Homo sapiens: one gene and its partner. The protein of the gene in region 2 interacts with the protein of the main gene of each other region in a biochemical or structural test. Each region holds a gene or a part of one and is shown on either strand. Other genes may lie near its edges.

The links. Proteins that work in one complex are often made in the same cells at the same time.
Region 1: the proteins of UBR2 (region 2) and UBE2B form a complex in vitro, tested with the Homo sapiens proteins (one study listed by BioGRID).

What each region holds. Positions count from the first base shown.
Region 1 is NC_000005.10:134,385,069-134,388,568, reverse strand, and holds part of UBE2B (ubiquitin-conjugating enzyme E2 B), read right to left. Parts: intron 245-3,500; coding exon 156-244; intron 1-155. UniProt on the Homo sapiens protein: E2 ubiquitin-conjugating enzyme that accepts ubiquitin from the ubiquitin-activating enzyme E1 and transfers it to a E3 ubiquitin-protein ligase. In vitro catalyzes 'Lys-11'-, as well as 'Lys-48'- and 'Lys-63'-linked polyubiquitination.
Region 2 is NC_000006.12:42,686,029-42,689,528, reverse strand, and holds part of UBR2 (E3 ubiquitin-protein ligase UBR2), read right to left. Parts: intron 1,314-3,500; coding exon 1,143-1,313; intron 543-1,142; coding exon of another isoform or gene 521-542; exon of another isoform or gene 1-520. UniProt on the Homo sapiens protein: E3 ubiquitin-protein ligase which is a component of the N-end rule pathway.

The sequences.
Region 1 (3,500 bases), on a different chromosome or scaffold from region 2:
AGACTGGATCCCAAGTAGGCACTACTGAAAGAGAAAAGTTAGCTGAAAAGCATGGATTCTTGTCCAAGCTCTGCCATTGGTTACCTGTGTGCTAAGGAGCTGACTATATCCTACAGAATACTGACAAATTATAATACATCCTAACACACACTTACCTGAATTGATGTTAAGATAGAAGATACATCATATGTTGGACTCCATCGATTCTGAAGGATATCTAAACATATGCTACCATCAGCATACACTGCAAAGACAATACTAAAATTAGTTACACACTCTGCCATATCTAACAGTTAAGAGAAATCTTTACCAAACAGAATGCTTGGCTTAGAAGTTTTAAATATTAGGTAATAACTAAATTCTTCTGTATCACAGGATAACCTGTCTTAAAACTAAGGTCTCTTATTTTGCACCTGCTATGGTTTGAATGTTCCCTCCAAATCTCATGTTGAAATGTAATTGCTGGAGGCTGGGCACGGTGGCTCACGCCAGTCCTGAACACTTTGGGAGGCCGAGGCAGGCAGGATTGCTTGAGGTCAGGAGTCTGAGACCAGTCGGGCCAACACAGTGAAACCCCATCTCTACTAAAATTATAAAAATTAGCCGGGCATGGTGGCACATGCCTGTAATCCCAGCTACTTGGAAGGCTGAGGCAGGAGAATCGCTTGAACCCAGGAGGCAGGGGTTGCAGTGAGCTGAGATCACACCACTGCACTCCAGCCTGGATGACAGGGTAAGAACCTGTCTCAAAAAAATAAAAGTAAAAAAATTAAATAAAAAAAAATTAATTGCCATTGTAACACTGTTGAGAAGTGGGACCTTTAAGAAGTGCTTAGGTCATGAGTGCTCAGGGCAGGAGTGTACTCCAGATAAAAGGATGAGTTTGGCACCTTTTCTTATGTCTTGTGTGCTCACTTGTCATTCTGCCTTCCACCATGGGATGTCACAGCACCAAGGACCTTGCTTAGGTGCTGGCGCCATGCTCTTGGACTGCCCAGTCTCCAGAACCATGAGCCAAACAAACTACTATTATTTACAAATTTACAAATTATCAGTCCCTGCTATTCTGTTGTAGCAGAAAATGAACTAAGACAGCATGTTATGATCAGGAGGCTTTGAGTTAAATTTCTTCAACACACATCATTTAGCAATCTATTTAAATTCCGTATTTCTAAATATTCTTAAAGCTTTTAAAAAACTGCTTATTTTTGACATAGCAATTACACTCCTAGAAATTAAGGAAATAAACGTGGACATGCACAAAGATTTACTTACAGGATGTTCACTATAATACTACTTATAAGAGTAGAAGGCCAGGCGCAGTGGCTCACACCCATAATCCCAGCACTTTGGGAGGCCGAGGCGGGTGGATCATGAGGTCATGAGTTCGAGACCAGCCTGGCCAGCATGGTGAAACCCTGTCTCTACTAAAAATACAAAAATTAGCCAGGCATGGTAGTGCATGCGTGTAGTCCCAGCTACTCAGGAGGCTGAGGCAGAAGAATTGCTTGAACCCAGGAGGCAGAGGTTGCAGTGAGCTCAGATCACGCCACTGCACTCCAGCCTGGGCGACAGAGCGAGACTCTATCTTAAAAAAAAAAAAAAAAAAGTGAAAAACTAATTCTACCTTGTGGTCCATAAAAGAGGGAACTGGCTAAATAAACAACTGATACATTCATATAAGCAATAGCAACACAATCACCAGAAATGATACATATCTACTGTTTATAGAGTAAGACATCCACAGACTATTACCTTAAAAATAAGTTTTTAATTATTTATAATTTCCTATTTTGATTAAAAAGTTTTATATAAATTCATTTAAAGTATATGTAGTCAAAAAACATTTCTAAGACCGAATGTCAAAATGTAAGTAGTGGATATTTGTAATAGTAGGGTTATGGATGATCTTATTTTCTTTTCCTTTTTTTTTTTTGAGATGGAGTTTCGCTCTTGTTGCCCAGGATGGAGTGCAATGGTGCAATCTCAACTCACTGCAAGCTCCGCCTCCCAGGTTCAAGGGATTCTGCTGCCTCAGCCTCCCACGTAGTTGGGATTACAGGTGCCCACCACCACGCCCAGCTAATTTTTGCATTTTTAGTAGAGACGGGGTTTTGCCATATGTTGGCCAGGCTGGTCTCGAACTCCTGACCTCAGGTGATCCACCTGCCTCGGCCTCCCAAAGTGCTGGGATTACAAGCATGAGCCACTGTGCCCGGCCCTTTTTTTTTTTCTTTTTTTGAGATGGATTCTCAGTCTGTTGTCCAGGCTGGAGTGCAGTGGTGAGAACTCGGCTCACTGCAACCTCCACCTCCTGGGTTCAAGCAATACTCCTGCCTCAGCCTCCCGAGTAGCTGGGATCACAGGCATGTACAACCACGACCCAGCTAATTTTTGTATTTTTAGTAGAGATGGGGTTTTACCATGTTGGCCAGGCTAGTCTCGAATTCCTGACCTCAGGTGATCTGCCCACCTCGGTCTCCCAAAGTGCTGGGATTACAGGTGTGAGCCACAGCGCCCCCAGCAGATGATCCTCTTTTCTTTTTCTTTTTTTTTGAGATGGAGTCTCGCTCTGTCACCCAGGCTGGAGTGCAGTGGCGTGATCTCGGCTCACTGCAACCTCCGCCTCCTGGGTTCAAGCAATTCTCCTGCCTCAGCCTCCCAAGTAGGTGGGATTACAGGCACACATCACCATGCTTGGATAATTTTTTATATTTTTAGTAAAGACGGGGTTTCACTATGCTGGCCAGGCTAGTCTCGAAGTCCTGACCTCGTGATCCACCTGCCTCAGCCTCCCAAAGTGCTGGGACTACAGGCGTGGGCCACCGTGCCTGGCCTATCTTATTTTCTTTATCCTTCCTTGTGTTTATGATTTATTTGTGCAATGAGTATACATATTCCTTTCATTAAAAAAAAAAATCAAGTGACTAACAGGTATCAAAAGTCCTGAACATCTGGGAGGGTTCTTCCCTTTTTAGACTGATTCTGTGAAAATACAAGCAATGAACGTTAAGTATTTGCCCAATTGTGAGACTATCTGTAGAAAAAATTTCTAGAAGTGAACTGCTATGTAAAACAAAGAGTAAATTCATTTAAATGTTACAGATACCATTTCATGGAGCAAACCATAACAGAGAGTGGGGAGCAAATCACACTTAAACACTGTGATTCTTCCAGACTCTATCCTAAGCCCTTTTCCTTCTTACCCTTTACACACACACTGGGCAATCCTATTGACTCCTGTGGCCTCAGTTACCATCCATGTGCTCAGTATTCCCAATCATTGGCCTTAGCCTAGATCTATCTCTCAGCTTCAAAGCCAACTTACTGTCCATCCCACAGAAACATCAAACTTAGCTGCCCAAAGCAAAAATTAGTAACTCTGTAAAACCCATAAAAGTGTAAAACAATTTTAAAGTTCTGAGTAACTATTTCTGAGAATCCAAAAGTAAATCAGAACTCAAATATCTTATCAACTAATGAACAAAATACAGAATATC
Region 2 (3,500 bases):
GTAACCAACATTTGTATTCAGTTCCAAATAGAATGAAGTCTTATAGTACTGATATTTAAACCACTATTAGGAGGAAGTTATCCATTAAAAAATTGTGCACAAACTAGGAAATAGGTTGAATCGAGTCAAATTTGTGTCCCCTGATCCCTTTGAGACATTTGCCTTTTTCTGGCATTAATAGTACAGCACAATTAAACAGACATTTATTGAGGACCTAATACGTATAAGAAATTATCAAGGTACTGGGGGGATGACTAAGCTATGGATACAACCTATGCTCCAGAGGAGCCCACACTCATGTCATGCCTCTGCTTCAAACCCTGAAATGGCTTACACCTTGCCCAGAGATGTCACCAGCACACAGCAGGCCCCTGGATTCTCTCACCTGTGCACAACACTCCAGTGACACGCGCCTCCTTGCCTTGAGCAGACAGGCACATTTCTACCCCAGGAACTGTGCAGAATGTTCTGAGTAGAATGTTCTCCCACTTCTTTAGGTCTTTACTCAGAAGTCATGTTCTTAGGAAGCCTTCCCTGATCTACTAAAATTAAATCTCAAATTTAGCTCCATAGCTGCCATTTCATATTCCCCTTCCCTGCTTTATTTTTTCTCCTTAGCCTATATCACTATCTAAATTCTTGTCAGTCTTGCTTGTCCTCTCTCTCATACAAAACAAGCTCCATCCATAAGGGCAGAGATCTTTGCACTGTGGACTACTGCATCCTCAATGCCTGGTACATAGTAGTCACTAATCACAAGCTGGCATGTAGAGTTGTGATAATATGTATAAGTGGAGGTAAAATCCAAAAGCCATGAGGACATAACAGAAAGAGTAATTCTGACTGGATTTGTTCAGAAAATCAGAGAAGTTTCACATTAGTGGGAGACATGGAGAAAGTAGAACAGAACTGTCACCTATGGTTGAGGGAAGAGGAGTGGGAATGGTAACAATAAAAGAACCAACACAGAGTTGGCATGGACCAGATGTGAGATGTGAGGCGACAAGGAGCTCCACGTTTCTGGAATGAATCACACGGAACAGTAGTCTCAAAATTCCTGGCAATATAGTAGTTTCCTGTGACACCCTAACAGTCAGATACTGAGGCAGATCCAAAGCTAAAAAGCCCCTGCAGGTCCTTACCTCAGGAAGATGCCCACTCCAGAGCCACAGGAGTAGGTGTGAGCTGTGCAGGCTCCTACATCCTCCCCTTCCAGTTCAGTCTGGCAGCAGTAACTCTGGGAGCACAGCAGAGATCCGCACACAAGGCACAGAGTTGGGGCTCTGCTCTTATCACCACCTGATTTCGGGCACCTCCAAGGGATAAAAAACCCACAAGTCATTGATCTAAAGAGTGGCTAAAGAGCTAGTGATGAAAAAACCAGCCCAGAAAAGAATTCTGCAATATCAAGTAAAGCCAAAGAAGTGTATATCCTACAGTCTATGCAAGTTTATTCCTAGAATCTGGAATAGGAAACATCTTGCACATATATACAAAGACCATGTACTGGAAACACTCAAAAGAATCAGTAACTGGAGAAAAAAAAATAAATAAAATCATCAATAGGAGAAAAAGATAAACGGTACCACTGCCATATAATAAAATACTATGGAGCAATGAAAAATCAATAAAGTTATAAACGTCAATACAGATAAATCTTAGAAACAATGCTGAATGAATGCAAAATTGGCTGGGTGCAGTGGCTCACGCCTGTAATCCCAGCACTTTGGGAGGCAAAGGTGGGTGGATCAACTGAGGTCAGGAGTTTGAGACCAGCCTGACCAATATGGTGAAACCCCGTCTCTACTAAAAATACAAAAATTAGCCAGGCATGGTGGTGTGCACCTGTAGTCCCAGCTACTTTGGAGGCTGAGACTGGAGAATCACTTGAACCTGGGAGGCGGAGGTTGCTGTGAGCCAAGATCACACCACTGCACTCCAGCCTGGGCAACAGAGTGAGACCCTGTCTCAATAAATAAATAAATAAATAAATAAATAAAATAAAATACAACATACAGCTCTCCCTCTCCCTCTCTTCTCTCCCTCTCCCCTTTGCACAGTCTCCCTCTGATGCCGAGCCGAGGCTGGACTGTACTGCCGCCATCTTGGCTCACTGCAACCTCCCTGCCTGATTCTCCTGTCTCAGCCTGCCCAGTGCCTGGGATTGCAGGCGCGCGCCGCCACGCCTGACTGGTTTTTGTATTTTTTGGTGGAGACGGGGTTTCGCCGTGTTGGCCGGGCTGGTCTCCAGCTCCTGACGGCGAGTGATCTGCCAGCCTCGGCCTCCCGAGGTGCCAGGATTGCAGAGGGAGTCTTGCTCACTCAGTGCTCAATGTTGCCCAGGCTGGAGTGCAGTGGCGCGATCTCGGCTCGCTACAACCTCCACCTCCCAGCCGCCTGCCTTGGCCTCCCAAAGTGCGGAGATTGCAGCCTCTGCCCGGCCGCCACCCCGTCTAGGAAGTGACGAGCGTCTCTGCCCGGCCGCCCAGTCTGAGAAGTGAGGAGCCCCTCTTCCTGGCCGTCATCCCGTCTAGGAAGTGAGGAGCGTCTCTGCCCGGCCGCCCATCGTCTGGGATGTGGGGAGCGCCTCTGCCCCGCCGCCCCGTCTGGGATGTGAGGAGCGCCTCTGCCCGGCCGCGACCCTGTCTGGGAGGTGAGGAGTGTCTCCGACCGGCTGCCCCGTCTGAGAAGTGAGGAGCCCCTCCGCCCGGCAGCCGCCCCGTCTGGGAAGTGAGGAGCGTCTCCGCCCAGCAGCCGCCCAGTCCGGGAGGTGGGGGGCAGCCCCTACCCGGCCAGCTGCCCCGTCCGGGAGGTGGGGGGCAGCTCCCACCCGGCCAGCCGCCCCGTCCGGGAGGTGGGGGGCGCCTCTGCCCGGCTGCCCCGTCTGGGAAGTGAGGAGCCTCTCTACCTGGCCGCCACCCCATCTGGGAGGTGCAACCAACAGCTCATTGACAACAGGCCGTGATGACGATGGCGGTTTTGTCGAATAGAAAAGGGGGAAATGTGGGGAAAAGAAAGAGAGATCAGATTGTTACTGTGTCTGTGTAGAAAGAAGTAGACATAGGAGACTCCATTTTGTTCTGTACTAAGAAAAATTCTTCTGCCTTGGGATGCTGTTAATCTATAACCTTACCCCCAACCCCGTGCTCTCTGAAACATGTGCTGTGTCCACTAAGGGTTAAATGGATTAAGGGCGGTGCAAGATGTGCTTTGTTAAACAGATGCTTGAAGGCAGCATGCTCGTTAAGAGTCATCACCACTCCCTAATCTCAAGTACCCAGGGACACAAACACTGCGGAAGGCCGCAGGGACCTCTGCCTAGGAAAACCAGAGACCTTTGTTCACATCTTTATCTGCTGACCTTCCCTCCACTATTGTCCTATGACCCTGCCAAATCCCCCCCTCCGAGAAACACCCAAGAATGATCAATAAATACTAATTAAAAAAAAAACATACAAAATAACAATACATGCTGCTCAAGAATAGAAACTTATATAGTT